2 separate regions of the Homo sapiens genome follow, and region 2 is linked to region 1. The links come from fine-mapping of genetic effects on gene expression. A gene starts in region 1. The other region holds a variant in brackets. All regions are shown on one strand. Distances are from middle to middle.

Region 1 (8,337 bases):
TTTTTTTTTTTGACAGAGTCTCGCTCTGTCGCCAGGCTGGAGTGCAGTGGTGTGATCTCGGCTCACTGCAACCTCTGCCTCCCGGGTTTAAGCAATTCTCCTGCCTCAGCCTCCTGAGTAGCTGGGACTACAGGTGAATGCTACCACACCCAGCTAATTTTTGTATTTTTAGTAGACACAGGGCTTCACCATTTTGGCTAGGATGGTTTCAATCTCCTGAGCTCGTGATCTGCCCATCTCAGCCTCCCAAAGGGCTGGGATTACAGGCATGAGCCACCACGCCCGGCCAACTGAGGCTTTTTTTTAGAGTGTCTTGCTCTGTTGCCAAGGCTGGAGTGCAGTGGTGTGATCTCGGCTCACTGCAACCTCTGCCTCCTGGGCTCAAGTGATCCTCCACCTCAGACTCCCGAGTAGCTGGGACCATGGTTGCACACCACCATGCCCAGCTAATTTTTAAATTTCTTTGTAGAGATGGGGTCTTACTATGTTACCCAGACTGATCTCAAACTCCTGAGCTCAAGTGATCCTCCTGCCTTGGCCTCTCAAAGTGTTGAGAATACAGGTGTGAGCCACCACGCCTGGCCCTTAACTTTGTTTAAAGTGGGTTTTCCCAAACAAGTGTTTTTGTTTTTTAAGAGTGTCTGGCTATGTTCCCTAGGCTGGAGTGCAGTGGCTATTCACAGGCATGATTATAGCACACTACAGCCTCAAACTTCTGGCCTCAAGTGAGCTTCCTGCCTCAGTTTCCCCAGTAGCTGGGATTACAGGTACCCAACACAGGTGTTTAGTTTTTATAAAGCCAACTATATATTTTCTTTCTTTGTGGTTACTGCCTTAGAAGTTGCACTCAGAGCATCTTCCCTTACCCAATGATTATTCGATACTTATCTATACTTTGTTTTAATAGTATATTTATTCTAGAAATAAATGTATATATAAATTATTAAGTATATTAGTATATTTTTGTAAAAGAAAAATAACTGTGAGTGTATGCATGAAATAATATAGAAGTTTATGTATAAAAATATAAATTATGGGCTGGGCGAGGCGGCTCACGCCTGTAATCTCAGCCCTTTGGGAAGCCGATGCAGGCGGATCACCTAAGGTCTGGAGTTTGAGACCAGCCTGGTTAACATGGTGAAACCCTGTCTCTACTAAAAATTAAAAAAAAAATTAGCCGGGCTTGGTGGCGGGCGCCTATAATCCCAGCTACTCAGGAGACTGAGATAGGAGAATCGCTTGAACCCAGCAGGCAAAGGTTGCAGTGCGCCGAGATTGCGCCATTGCACTCCAGTTTGGGCAACAAGAGTGAAACTTGTCTCAAAAAAAAAAGTAAATTATGATTATCTGGGTGGTAATATTATATTTGACTTCTTTATTTTTCATATTTCCACAATGAATGTAATTATTTCTTAAAAAAACAAAAGTAAAATGGAGTCTCATTATCCAGCCCAAGATATCAATAGCCATGATTCTTGGTGGAAGGGAGTAACCTCCCCCCTACTCCCCACACCCCTCCTACACACCCAGGGGTAAATCTGCAGGTTTGACAAGGCTTAACCACATATGCAATACTGAGTTGTTTTTCAGTCTGGGGATAGGGTGGAATCTTAACAATATCATTTTGTGATGCTACTAACAAAAGAACTTAACAAAATCCTGGCTGATAAAATATTTGTTTAAAAACTTCTGTGACCAAAAACAGTGAAAGCAGGGACTCAAGTGGATATTTGTATACTCATGTTCAGAGCAGCATTATCCACAATACCCAAAAGGTGGAAGCAACCCAGGTGTCCATCAACAGATGAATAAATAAACAGAATGCAGTGTAGACATACAATGGATATCACTCAGCCTTAAAAAGGAGCAAAATTTTGACACATGCTACAATATCCATACCTCTGTGCCCACCTCTTCCAGGCACAGCCCTTGGTCCTTGCTCTATCTCCCCTAAAAACACAGGGAACATTTAGAGGTTTACTTTATGAACGATATTACAGCTGGAAAGGATCCAAACAAGTAAAGGGGCCAACTAGAGATCCTGTGGTGAATTAATGGCACAGCTGGAAGTATCCAACTGTGGCAACATGGATGAACCTTGAAGCGTTACACTAAGTGAAATACACCAGTTACAGAAAGACAAATATTGTATGATTCCACTTAGACGAGGTTCCTAGAGCAGTCAAATTCATAGACAGAAAGTAGAATGGTGGTTGCCAGGGGATGGGAGGAGGAGGGAATGAGGAGTTGGCATTTGGTGGGTACAGAATTTCACTTGAGCTGAGTGTAGTGGCACATGCCTGTAGTCCCAGCTATTCAAGAGGCTGAGGTGGGAGGACTACATGAGCCTAGGAGTTCAAGGCTGCAGTGAGCTATGATCGTACCCCACAGCCTGGGTGACAGAGCAAGACCCTGTCTCTAAAAAAAAAAAAAAAAAAAGAATTTCCGTTGAGAAAGATTAAAAAGTTCTGAAGATGGTGGTGATAGTTGCACAACAATGTGAATGTACTTAATGCCACAGAACTGTACACTTAAAAATGATTAAAATGCTAAATTCTGTTATGTATTTATTACCACAATAAAAACAAAAACCACTGTCCTATGAGAAAATGTCCTAAATCTTTAGCAAGGCATAAGAGATCTATCACAATATGTCCCAACTTATCTGTCATCTCTCTTCATTTTCCACAACTTCCCCTCATTGCTCCTTGAGAAAAGGGACCTTTTTATTCTCGCTTCCATCCTGGCACCTAGAATAGTACCTGACATAGTTATAGGTGGTTTGTTCTGACTGAGTGACTGCTTTAACATTACTAAACATTTTGTTATTCCTCTAGTAATCAGGCACGTACCTTCACACCTTCACATAGGGTCCTTATATGTGAGTTGTTCTTTGAATAGCTATCCCCTCTTCTTCACTCAGCAAACGCCTATTAATTCTTTTTTTTTTTTTTTTTTCCAGTTTTTTTGAGACAGGGTCTCGCTCTGTCGCCCAAGCTGGAGTGCACTGGCATGATCTCGGCTCACTGCTGCGTCTACCTCGCTGGCTCAAGCGATCCTCTGGCCTCAGCCACCACAAGTAGCTGGGACTACAGGCATGTGCCATGATGCACGGCTTATTTATTTTTTTGTCTGAGACACAGTCTCACTCACTCTGTCACCCAGGCTGGAATGCAGTGGTGTGATCTCAGTTCACTGCAACCTCCATCTCCCGGGTTCAAGCGATTCTCCTGCCTCAGCCTCCAGAGTAGCTGGAATTACGGGTGCGCACCACCACACCTGGCTAATTTTTTTGTATTTTTAGTAGCGATGGGGTGGTTTCATCATGTTGGCTAGGCTGGTCTCGAACTCCTGGCCTCAAGGGATCCGCCCACTCGGCCTCCCAACATGCTGGGATTACAGGCGTGAACCACCACATCCGGCCATAATTTCCGTATTTTTTGTAGAGATGAGGTTTGGCCATGTTGCCCAAGCTGGTCTCGAACTCCTGAGCTCAAATGATCCGCCCACTTTGGCCTCCCAGAGTGCTGGAATTACGGGCGTGAGCCACTGTGCCTGACCTTATTAATTCTTTAGGACCCAGAAACATCATCACTTCTGTTGGGTCTTCCTCCAAAGAGATGTCACTTACACCTTCACTCTTTCCTACCATTTTATACAAGACTACAACCTCTATTTAACGCTTCTTATTATTTAAGTACATGTTTTTCCCAACCACTCTGAGTCCTGGGACAACATATCTTTTTCTTTCTGTTCTAGTTTAGAGCTTGGCACATAGTAAAAGTCTTCCTAAATGTTGCACGAACGAGTAAATGATTTTAATTTCCACAAACTCCAGGCTTCCCTGATTGGCCCCTGCCTGTGAACATGAGTCACCAGTTGTTATCTTGAAAGCCTCAGGAACTTCAGACGCAATTCATCCTGGCTACCCAGTGGGTCCAGAAAGGACCCAAGTGCACAAAGGGGCCGGCATCGGCCAATCCTAGGGTGGGGAAAAGTTAGGTATCCATGCCCCTGTGCCCACTTCTTCCAGGCACAGCCCTTGGTTCTTGCTCTAGCTCCCCTAAAGACACAGAAAATATTTAGAAGTTCACTTAACAAAAATATTACAGCTGGAAAGGACCTCAGAGATAACAATGGTAGTCCATCCACTTCATTTTATAGATGAGGAAAGTGAGGCCCAAACAAGTAAAGGAGCCGACTGAAGCGCCCGTGGTGAATTAATGGCACAGTCGGAACTAGAGCCCAGGCCTCTCTCCTCTCTAAAGTCTAAAACATTCTTGGATTTCAGTTTCCTCTTCTGTAAAACGGGGTGAAAATTAGCCTCTCAGGACAGTGGTGAGGAGCAAATGAGATAATGAATGTAAAAGAAATTACTATATTAGCAACAGAAATCAGAGCGGAGCGAGATGGTGTAGAGGAATCTAAGGGGTGTCCGGAGACATGTGTTCCAGTCATGTCATCTCTGTGAACCTCAGTCTCCTCATCTGCAAATGCAGGACCTGGCCCGGCTGACCGCCGAGACCCTTCCAGCTCTGCCGACCCAGGCCCTGAGGCCCTTCCCGGAGGGCCGGACCCTGAGGGAAAAAAACGAAGGAGCCCGTGGGGACCCTCGAGTTACCGTCCTGCAGCAGCGCAGTCTTCTGGGCTGTCCGCAGACTCTCCAACCAGCCCGTCACCGCCATCTTTCCCCTGCTAAGCAGCACGCCCAGCCGCTGCCATGGCAACCGTTCCAGAGGGTCACTTCCGGCTGACTCGGAAGCTATTCTGGCCATTTGCCCTCCTTCCCCCCTTCGTCCGCTCTCATTGGCTCTGCTGGTAAGTGGTCTATTCCTGCCCACCCCCGGGTGACTAGCTTGGCCAGTAGTCGACCCCACCCGGGGACCGACTCTGGGGGTTGGAGAGACTCTTGGGGCCGGGGTCGGGCACTCCAGCTTTCTTCTAGCCCCGAGCTGGGATTCCCTGGCCTGCGCCAGCTGCGTACACGGCGAGTACACCGCACCTGCCCGGGACTTCACCCGCAGCTGCGAGACTCCTCCATTCCCGGAGGGCTCCCCACACCTGCTGCGGCCGTGCCCCATCTCCCCGCAGCTGCGGCGCTGAGCACCCCCATGTCGAGAGGCTGAGACCAGGACAGGTGCAGGGCGTTCCCACTCACCCCCGAAAGTCCTCCTCCTTCCTCTGCGAGTCTGTGTTGGAGGTAGAGAAATAGTATGTGGGGTTTATGTGCAGGTCCTCCCCAGGCTCCGCTCCATCCCCTAAAGCTCCATTTCCTAGCCCAGCATCCCATTTGGTAAAGCCCTTCGAAGTGGGCCGCAGCAGGGCTGTGCTGAATCTTTAGCGCAACCCCTCTGAGGAATGGTGTCGTTTCCTACTCCTCAAAAGTACCCCCGATGGCACCAGCCTTCCCCTCATTTCCCGTAATACTCCAACTTCGAAAGGCTGGGGAGTGTGAAGCTAGGCTAAACCACTGAAGTTTAACCGGGTTTGAAGAGACCCCCTCCCCCGACCCGCTTCCCCAAACTGGGCTGCTACCCCCAAAGCCTGGTCAGGAAAGACCCTACCTCCATAGGCAAAGGGGTTGGAGGGCCTCAATTCTGGATTTCCACGTGCAGCAGCCCTGACCAACGCTCCAATAGGCCGGGATCCAGCCATACTTCAATGGATCCCAGGGGTATCTTGAAGGCATTTCCCAAGCGGCAGAAAATTCATGCTGATGCATCATCAAAAGTACTTGCAAAGATTCCTAGGAGGGAAGAGGGAGAAGAAGCAGAAGGTGAGCTGACCCAGTCTCAGAACCCTCGTGTGCTTGAACCCACAGCCTTCATGTGCTTCAGCCCTACGTTGTTTATGTCCAGAATCAGATATTGGAGCTGACTCTGCCTGTCCAGGGCCTGCAGGTCTGTTTGTATCTACCTTGTGCTAAGCTTGGTCCTGGGTCTTGGACAGGCTATTTGCTGTGTTACCTTCTTTTCTACCCGAAGACCTCTATCCATCAGAAAAGACTCCCTGGGCCCTCAGGGAATGACCAGTATAATTTTTGCCCTGAGGACTGGGACAGAAACCCCCCTCCATTACCCAGGCTTGTTGTTAGTTGTTTTGCAGCCAAATTGGCAAATAAATGGCAGAGGCTTTGGAGGCAGGGTTGTCGGGTCTGTCAGACTGTAAGGGCAAGAAACGCGCTTTGTTGAAAGAATAAATGATAAAGGATTCAAAGTATGGAGAGAGGCTGGGCGCGGTGGCTCTTGCCTGTAATCTCAGCACTTTGGGAGGCCGAGGCAGGCAGATCACCTGTGCTCAGGAGTTCGAGACCAGCTTGGGCAACATGGCGAAACCCTGTCTCTACTAAAAATACAAAAAATTAGCCAGGCATGGTGGCACACGCCGGTAATCCCAGCTACTCGGGAGGCTGAGGCATGAGAATCGCTTGAACTCGGGAGATGGAGGTTGCAGTGAGCCAAGACGATGCCACTGTACTCCAGCCTGGGCGACAGAGTGAGACTGTCTCCAAACAAAAACAAAACAAAAGAAAACAAAACAAACAAACAAAAAACAAAGTAAGAAGGGAGGAGGCATTCATTAAACAAATATTTACAGGTTACTTACAATGTGCCAGACACTTCTAGATTGCACCAAGGAACAGGACGTATGAAAATCCTTGTCCCTTACATTCAAGTGCTGGCCTGTGAGAAAATTTGCTATATGTAGAAGGAAAGCTGTCTGGATGGAAGGGAAATGCTTATTTTCAGGGTAGGGGACTGTGAACACGTCATTCAGATCATGTTAGAAGTTATGTCGTGGCCAGGGGGTGGCAGATAAAAATTAAAAAGTTACAACAGTAGTCATCTGGATGTTCCTTCCACAGAGTGGCTGAGCTCCCTTCGGGCCCATGTTGTGCGCACTGGCATTGGACGAGCCCGGGCAGAACTCTTTGAGAAGCAGATTGTTCAGCATGGCGGCCAGCTATGCCCTGCCCAGGGCCCAGGTGTCACTCACATTGTGGTGGATGAAGGCATGGACTATGAGCGAGCCCTCCGCCTTCTCAGACTACCCCAGCTGCCCCCGGGTGCTCAGCTGGTGAAGTCAGCCTGGCTGAGCTTGTGCCTTCAGGAGAGGAGGCTGGTGGATGTAGCTGGATTCAGCATCTTCATCCCCAGTAGGTGGGCTGATCCCAGTCTTTTTTTCAAATGTTTTCTAGTAGCATCTTGAGCTCTTTTCTTGAATTATTAAAAATAACTATCATTAATTAAAAAATTAGCCAGGCATGGTGGGGTGTGCCTGTAGTCCCAGCTATAAGAGGTTTAGGTGGGAGGATTGATTGAGCCAGGGAGGTTAAGGCTGCAGTGAGCCTTGATCGTACCACTGTACTCCAGCCTGGGTGACAGAGCAAGACCCTGTCTCAAGAGAAACTCCAAAAACCTCAAAAAACTCGTTTTCTTAATTGGACACACTGGGAAACCAAGTATTTCAGAGTACAGAAGGACTGGGGACAGATACAGGGTGAGACCTTTGGTGTCTTAACCTCCCATCACCATCCCCACAGGTACTTGGACCATCCACAGCCCAGCAAGGCAGAGCAGGATGCTTCTATTCCTCCTGGCACCCATGAGGCCCTGCTTCAGACAGCCCTTTCTCCTCCTCCTCCTCCCACCAGGCCTGTGTCTCCTCCCCAAAAGGCAAAAGAGGCACCAAACACCCAAGCCCAGGTCAGGAGCCTCCCATCCCTCAGAACTCCCTTCCCCTAGGAAGCAGATCACAGAAATGGGGTGGGCCTGGTGGCTGTTCAGAAAGTCCCAGGCCCCTGAGAGAGGAGGGCTCTATTGTGAAGCCATTTAGCTCTTCCCAACACTCATCACTGCTGCATTTATCTAGGCCATATCTAACACATACCACTGGGGATCCTAGGGCTAGGCACTGCGTGGAGCCAAAGGGAACGTGGCCTCACACCCAAGGAGATCCAAGTCTGATGCAGAAGGCCCCGCCTCATTCTTAGGTCTGACTAGAAGACCCTCCCCCCGCACAAAGAAGATGACCCCCACCTTTAAGGATCCCTTCTCTTGGAGAACAAGAATTTATTGTTTTCTTTTCTTCTCTATCCCAAGCCCATCTCTGATGATGAAGCCAGTGATGGGGAAGAAACCCAGGTTAGTGCAGCTGATCTGGAAGCCCTCATCAGTGGCCACTACCCCACCTCCCTTGAGGGAGATTGTGAGCCTAGCCCAGCCCCTGCTGTCCTGGATAAGTGGGTCTGTGCACAGCCCTCAAGCCAGAAGGCGACCAATCACAACCTCCATATCACAGAGAAGCTGGAAGTTCTGGCCAAAGCCTACAGTGTTC
Region 2 (8,337 bases), 130 kb after region 1:
AACCAACAACAACCAACCACACATATATAATGAAATAATGCAAACCCCAAACGAAAGTATTTACAAGACAGTCCCTTAAGCATAGTTTGTCATATTGCAATTACACCTTGCCTACTGCCAAGCCAAAGTGCTTACTATTGCCACTAGAGGGAGAAGTGTCTTAACACAAAGCAACGGCAGATAGGGAATGGGTTTTCTCGAGCAATTATCAGAACAAAGCTCCCTTGGCTGTGTGTACCTTCTAATTACTCAATACAATTAAAGTGACTAACCTAAAACAAATAGAGAGAAAAAAAAAAAAAAAACCCTGCCTGCCTGATATCAGGGACTTCATTAAACCTTTTTCCCTCATCAATCAAATCAGAAAGAAGGGAATGCCATCATATATGAACATTACAGAGCTATTAAAGGAAGCAAATTCTGTGTTTTTTTTTTTTTTAAAGGAAGAAAAGGAGCTCTCTTGAAAAAAGAAATGTCTTGGTATTTACCCATCTGGATGCTGCTTGAAAATAAATTGTCCTCCAAAGAACAGAAATACAGTATGTTTTCTCTCAGTTCACTGGCTTATGAATGACTTTTTGTTGTTGTGGTTGTTTTGTTAATACACACTATAATGTCATTTTCTGTGTCAGTGATGTGCTTTTTCCTCCTACTCATCCAACTGTATAAAGGAGCTATGCCCATCAGACTTCCATGCTTATACTGGCTGATTTAAGTTCTTCACTGCTGTTTTTTGTGGATCTACTCCAAGGCAATGTTTAGAACGCAGGAATTTTTTCAGGGGAGGGGAATATGGTAGAAAAGGAAAACAGCTACTTATTCCTTCTAAAAGACTTATGTAGTTCCTTTTATAAGGCCCAGTCATTAACAGAAGATGACAACACAGTCATTTTTCTTTCAGCTGACAATTGTGACATTTTTCCAGCAGCGTGCAAGGTGTTGAAAACCTGGCAGCTGTTACCTCCTGGGATGAAGATACTTTTTTATCCTCCCTTGACAGTCTAACTCAGTGGGTCAGCACCTTTAAAGACTGCAAAGTATCCTTGAAGAGGATGGAAGCTTGAATTACTGCTCCCTCCCTAATCAATGTAAACCCTCACTGCAGGTGAAGTCTCCATCTATAGAGGTGCATGGGGGAGGAAAATGTAATGCCCTGAGCCAGATGGTTTTTATCTTGTTTTTAAAGAATAAAGGAACAAGCTAACAAGGGAGACAGCTACTTTGTTAGCTTCTTGGCCTCTCTCATGGCTTTGCATCCCCAGGGTTCCAGCTACACAAGAGAAAGAATACAGAAAAACCTAAACACTTAAAGAAATATAACTAGAGGGCTGGCATCATGCTGCTTTCAGAGAGTTGAGAGAGCTCTACTCAATGCTTTATTTATCACTGCCCACGTTCTCAGGATGGTAAGTGGACACATACACAAAGGAAATGGGGGATGGGAGAGGGATTAGACAACGGTCACAATTTACTCAATTACAGAGAAAGGCAGGGCTGACAGATCCTATTAGCACCAATGAGAAGCAAAGAGTTGAACGTTGTAATGCCACAATTTTCAAAAAGTAATGAGTACTTTCATGTATCCTCCCAGGCCTTTGCCCTTGATTGCAGATAGGAATAAAAGGTAGGAAAACAGTGGCTATCCTTTCCTTGACTTCACATTTTTAGGAGTAAAACAAAAATTGTAGCTATTTTGTACATCCTTTAAATAAAAGTTCATATTTAATGCCAAGAAATGAGATTATTCTGAAACTAAGAAAATTAACTTTCTTTACAAGGATACACTGCTCTACTTCCTCTCCCTACCCCAAACTCTTCCATCTTCAGATGCTGGAAATGAAACGAAAAAGCAGGTATACAAAATGACTTGGTGACAGACACAGGGAACAGTGTCTCTTAATTTCCACCTTCATTATTTCTTGTTCTGGTAATATCTTTGTCGGGTTTTGGAATTACTGTTATGGTGGATTTTTAAGTCAAGGAGTGTTCTTTCCTTCTCTATTCTGTGAAAGGGTCTGGCATAAAATTCGTATCATTTCTTCCTTAAATATTTGTTGAATTCACCAGTAAAACCACATGTCCCTTCTGATGATTAATTAAATTTATTTAATAGACATCAGGCTATTCAAATTTTGCTTCACCCTGTGTTAAGAGTTTTGGTAAGTTGTATTTTTCAAGGAATTTGTTCAACTTGCCAAATTTTTGGTATAAAGTTGTTTGCTCCTCCAATATTTAAATAGCTCTCCAAATTAACATGCAGTAGTTATGTCCTATCAACAATGGCAAAACGCTATTTTTGAATAATATATGTCAACTATAATATTAGTTAAAAACAATGTTAAATTGCTAGAAGATAACTGAACTTTTTATAATCAATAGTGAGTTTCTGAAATCCCATTAGAAATATCTGCAAAAGAATCTCAAGTTAATGAGATGCAAATCCTACTTGTATCAATACTAGGTATAAGGCGGCCTTGACATCTTTTTGTCTACAGAAGTTGACTACAGGAAAAACAAAACAAAACAAAAACAAAAAAACAAAATAGCAAATGGCACTTCATTATTGTCATATGCAATAGAGAAAAGAGGGAGTTTAAACAGCTTATATACTATGTCCTACCTTAAAAAAAATCAGCAATGGGGTAATCAAGTTCAGGGCAGTCCTGGACAGCTGCCCTGTGACCCGCTTCTATTGACCCCTGCTATTCATCACTCTTCCCTAAGATAGAGAGGGCAAGCTCCTAGGGAGTGACCACCACAATAGACAGACACAAGCCAACAGTAATCTGGTTCGAGCAAAAAACCAGATGGCACTGCAATAAATTTACAAATCTGCATTCATGGGGCTGCTAAAACACCCAGAAGCTAAAAGACTCTGAGGGCCCCAGGAGGATCTCCTACTTCCCTGTTTCTAAAGGCCATTTCTCTTTCCAAGAACATTGAGTTCATGCTCTTCACAAAGAGAATGGAGATAAAACCCTTTACAAAGAAGGGAGGAGAAAAAGCCTCATGACCTAATTAATCTCCAGAGCTTGGATCTCAACACTGAATGACAGATATTAGAAAAATCATTTCAAAGCACCATGGGGGGGGTGGGGGGGAAGGTTGTTAAATTAAAGTGGGCAGGGGGAGTGGGGAAGAGAACCTGCTAAAACGGCAATGAAAAAAACAACATTAAATCTCTTTCGAATATTGCACACAACAGATCTTGCAAGTAGAAAATGATTCAATAATGTATGCATTTATTTTTAAAATGAATCAGATTAGTCCCATGTGTGACCTGCTGGTCCATCTGTATGTGCTGGACTTAATAGGCATGATTCTCTCTCTTGCTTCAGTTTGAAGTATGAGAGAGATAAATTTAGTTTAATTTTCAACAGATCAGCCTATCCATTTTCCAAATGGACCATCTGGATCAGCCTATTAAAATTAATTTATAACTTTGCAGAGAGAAAATTCGTTTGTTAGCTTAAATAAAGTTGCCAAAACTTTTGTTGTGTCATTGTTTTCCGACAGTTGTTTCTGTATAGTGGGCAGAGTGTTCCTACTTCCCAATTTATCTTATTCAGTATTGTCCTATTGGTTTAGATGAACAGATCAGGTGTTGATTCTCCAAACAGTTAAAATTGTAACTGTCTCAACATCAATTACTGATCATTTGTGGATTTTTGTTTGTTTTTTTTTTTAAAGCTTCCTGGATGATTCAATTCTATTTACTAAACAATTATTTTTATAAAAAAAAGAAGTGTTCATCCAAAAAACATTTAACATATAGTAAATTAAAAAATGAATGTGTCACAGTTTCAAGTACTTTCCCTCTAAACACTATATATAAACTGAAGTCAGAAGGCACAAGTAGAAACGCTTTGGAAACACTGAGATCTGAGTATCAAATCACTAATTAGCTAGACAAGTCATCTAACCTCTCTAACCCTCCATTTTCTTCATCTATAAATTGGAAGTCACATCATATCTAAAAACTTTACAGGGTTATTGTGAGGGTTAAATCAAATAAGCATCATGTTCACGGTGGGTGCTCAACAAATATTAGATCTCCTATTTCCTAGAACAATGCTATAAATCCAAGTAAATTAGAATTATTTTTACTGCTGCTCAGGCTCATTGTATCCAATTTTATATTAAAAATGAATACAGGGCCAGGTGTGGTGGCTCATGTCTGTAATCCCAGCACTTTGGGAGGCCAAGCTGGGCAGATCACCTGAGGTCAGGGGTCTGAGAACAGCCTGGCCAACATGGTGAAACCCTGTCTCTACTAAAAATACAAAAATTAGGTCGGGAACAGTGGCTCATGCCTGTAATCCCAGCACTTTGGGAGGCTTAGGTGGGCAGATCACAAGGTCAAGAGTTTGCGACCAGCCTGGCCAACATGGTGAAACCCC[G/A]TTTCTACTAAAAATACAAAAATTAGCCCGGTGTGGTAGTGGGCACCTGTAGTCCCAGTTACGCAGGAGGCTGAGGCAGAAGAGTCGCTTGAACCCTGGAGGTGGAGGTTGTGGTGAGCCAAGATCACACCACTGCACTCCAGCCTGGGCGATAGAGCAAGACTGTGTCTCAAAAAAAAAAAAACCCCAAAATACAAAAATTAGCCAGGCATGGTGGCAGGCACCTGTAATTCCAGCTACTCAGGAGGCTGAGGCAGGAGAATCGCTTGAACCCAGAAGGCAGAGGTTGCAGTGAGCCGAGATCACGCCACTGCACTCCAGCCTGGGCGACAGAGTGAGGCTTTGTCTCAAAAATAAAAATAAAATAAAATAATAAAAATAAAAATGAATAGGTGGCACACTTATTCTCTGGCAACATCATAAGAACTTGCGTTTCTTGTTTTTGCCAAGGACATTCTAATTTTTACAAGAACACAATGGTATTGAACTTTCACAAGTAAAATGTGTTACCTTCTATTGGGGCACAGTGGTGAGCTATTTTTTTTTTTTTTTTTTGAGACGGAGTTTTGCTCTTGTTGCCCAGGCTGGAGTGCAATGGCGCAATCTCAGCTCACCGCAACCTCTGCCTCTGGGGTTCAAGTGATTCTCCTGCCTCAGCCTCCTGAGTAGCTGGGATTACAGGCATGCGCCAGCATGCCCAGCAAATTTTTGTATTTTTAGTAGAGACTGGGTTTCTCCATGTTGGTCAGGCTGGTCTCGAACTCCCGACTTCAGGTATTCGCCTGCCTCAGCCTCCCAAAGTGGTGGGATTATAGGCGTTAGCCACCTTGCCCGGCTGCTGTTTTTTTAAGTTATTATTAACAATGGCCTTTTCTTCTAGAAAAAGCAAACAAAATATTGCTCATACTAAAAGGGCTAACTTTATTACAGGCAGATCTGTTTTTATACTTTTTTAAAAATGCCAACCAGCTGTCCTGTACATGTATACCTAGAATGTTTTTTAAATAACTGGGAAAACCATGTCACCTGATTGAAAGTGATGGCTATGGCCAGGCCAACGTCCGAGTACTCTTAATATAAGCTCCAGTGCTTAAAGAATGGCAAATCAAGGGTTTCCTCCTGTCTTTTGTTTTGCTGTTGGTAGCTTTTTATTTTAAGTAAGGCTGAATTTCATACCTGTCTAAGTGAATTCTTCTCTGGTATTATCTTCCTAGGGGGTTCGCCATTATTACAGTCTTCTCTCTCTGAGGAATTCTGTGAAAGAAAGTAAGCTTTAATTCAGTTCTCATTATCTTCAATCTTATCCTTTGGGAGTAAACTGAATTACATTTCTAATTCTGTAAGTTAGAACATACATATATTTATACAATTATTCACTTGAAGATTTGTATACATACAGATATACACATATGTAAAAGAAAACATATGCCCATGTATATAAATAAATTATGTAAGGATTTAGATGGGAAGTATTTCATGTATCTTTAAGCATTGTGTAGGAGATCATATTCATTAGATCTCTAGCTTGCACTTTGACACAGGTTGACACTGGATACAAGAAAGTTCCAGCCCACACTTAGCTGATGACAACTAAAACCATGATTATTACCTTCTCTCGATTATAGTAGATGTTTGGTTGGCACAGATCTCCAAGTCTGGGTCCTAAAAATAGTTATTTCTCTTCCCCCTCTTCTCAGATTTGATTTTATTTTCTTTGATAAAAGTAGCATAGGACTTAAAAAAACATTTACTCAGTAGTTTAGGATTAGAGTCCATTCCTTGGCACTGTCACCTCAAACAGCAGCTAGAGGCCCTAAAATGTCAGTGGGGTTTTTATATACTTAGGAGGGGGAAAAAAACAACAATCCAACTGAAAATGAGTTCATAAGTACTAAAAATCTGCTAGTCAATATATGTAAATCACTATCTACAAGGCAAAATACAGAAAATCCAAATTACATATTATTTGAGTTCCATTTTCAGCAACAACATTAGTAACATTAATAACATTAATATTTAAAACCCTGCAGTTGTGCTAGGTGCGGTGGCTCACACTTGTAATCCCAGCACTTTGGGAGGCCAAGGCGGGCAGATCATCTGAGGTCAGGAGTTTGAGACCAGCCTGGCCAACATGCTGAAACTGTGTCTCTACTAAAAATACAAAATTAGCCAAGTGTGGTGGTGGGTGCCTGTAATCCCAGCTACTCGAGAGTCTGAGGCAGGAGAATCGCCTGAACCCAGGAGGCCGAGGTTGCAGTGAGCCGAGATCACACCACTGCACTCCAGCCTGAGTGACAGAGCAAGGTTCCGTCTCAAAACAACAACAACAAAAAACTTACAGTTAATATATTCCTTACATTACATATAGTCATAACGTTCTAACAGGAGGGTTAGTTTATTTGTAGGTTCAGAAATTATTTTTAACATGAGAGTTTATCTGAAAATTTTCATACAAGCATGAAATTATTAATATACAATCATTACTGTGTTCTAAACCTACATGTAAATTTCACTTTTTTGGTTTCTATTAGATATTACATTTTGAAAGATACTGAGAGATAAAAAACGTACTGTGTCATTCTGAGGCCCTTTCACCTCTGTGGCTGACACCTGTGTGTCACCTTTAGTAAGCCTGACAGGCCAGTACCCTAATGTGTTTCTTTTGGGCAGAAATATCTTATGAGGTTTAACTTGATATTTTACATTTGTGATGATCCCTTGTAAAAGTCCCTAAAATTAAAGAAAAAGCATGCTATATTACAAAGAAAGGGACAGAGACTCAAGAACTTCAGAGTTCTAACTTCTTTTCCTCCCTGTTTGGAAAAAAAGGAATGGAGATCATCTACCAAAAAATGGAGGAAGGATATAATTGAATTAATGACTACAAAGCTTGACAAATGAGGCGACTGGCAATACATGCTATGTAAGAGTATCAAACAAAGAAAGGGAAAGGTCAACATTTATTTACCCCATAACATCAAGTTGTATGTTTAACTTTTTTTTTTTAAATGTAAAGATCAATGTTTTAAATACCAAAATTAAATGCCTTATATAATAGAAGCTTAAGCCAGTATCCAATTATAAACTTAGAATTTGCAAGTAACTCTCTTTCAGGTCATGAAATTCCTCCTTTAAATAAATAAATAAAAAGATCAGATAAACTAAACCTGTTTAATTCAGTGTAAGATCCTGTATTTCAAAATTAATTATGTTTTTTGAAATGTTATCATATAACTTGGAGCCTAATTACTTTTTGCTGGAAGTTTGTCATACCAAAGATACTATAAATCACATTTTTATTATACAGGTACTTGGGCTGATACACAATTGCTGGCAAACTCCTCTATACTGAATTATAAAGTGAAAAATAGTCATCTCAACCTTAACAGCCTGAGTATTGACTAGCCCATACTCACAATTTTCTTTTTACTGACCCTCTATTTTATCAGATTTAGATGGATAACCACTGGGTGGGTATTATGAAAATGTCTAAAGAATGAAAACACAAAGGGAGCTTAAAGGGTGTTACTAACCTAACATAGAACACAGAGCTTCTTAGGAGTTCCTTTCCCCTTTCTATCCCACTAGGGCAAAGAATATTTAAATGGTATTGTTAAAAATAACTCTTAAACAAAAAATGGGGGAAACCCATAAACATTGGTATGTTCTTTTAATACAGATTAACCCAACACTTTTACTCTGGGCCATCCATCATGAGAAATCAAATCAAACAAAAAATCCAACTTATAATGTTGTTACAAAAAAATAGAGGTAGGGACATTAAACAGTCATGATATCAGGAACAAGGATTAGGAACCCTCCTAATACTAAAGAGTAGAAGCAGAATGCCAGTGAATGAGATTACTAGGTCTACAGTCTTGAGGGTAAGGGGTAATGATGAAATAGCCATGTATACCTAAGTAGTCACCTCAACAGT

The links. PIP is the estimated chance that this variant, and not a neighbour inherited with it, causes the effect. A credible set is the group of variants that fine-mapping cannot tell apart.
Region 2: its variant is the best candidate, but not a certain one, in a credible set for the expression of POLL in whole blood (INTERVAL, PIP 0.56).

What each region holds. Positions count from the first base shown.
Region 1 is chr10:101,584,685-101,593,021 of GRCh38, reverse strand. It overlaps POLL (DNA polymerase lambda), which reads left to right and starts at 4,765. Exons shown (of 9, transcript NM_001174084.2): 1 at 4,765-5,200; 2 at 5,616-5,776; 3 at 6,866-7,160; 4 at 7,544-7,706; 5 at 8,103-8,337. The coding sequence starts at 5,662. DPCD (deleted in primary ciliary dyskinesia homolog (mouse)) reads right to left here and starts at 4,701. Exons shown (of 6, transcript NM_015448.3): 1 at 4,622-4,701. The coding sequence starts at 4,685. RefSeq lists enhancers at 4,416-4,745, 4,846-5,125.
Region 2 is chr10:101,459,298-101,467,634 of GRCh38, reverse strand. BTRC (beta-transducin repeat containing E3 ubiquitin protein ligase) reads right to left here. Exons shown (of 15, transcript NM_033637.4): 3 at 5,577-5,654. Among named protein-coding and RNA genes, the nearest start is that of BTRC, 110 kb to the right of the region's middle. The variant G/A (reference allele first, on the strand shown) is at 4,401.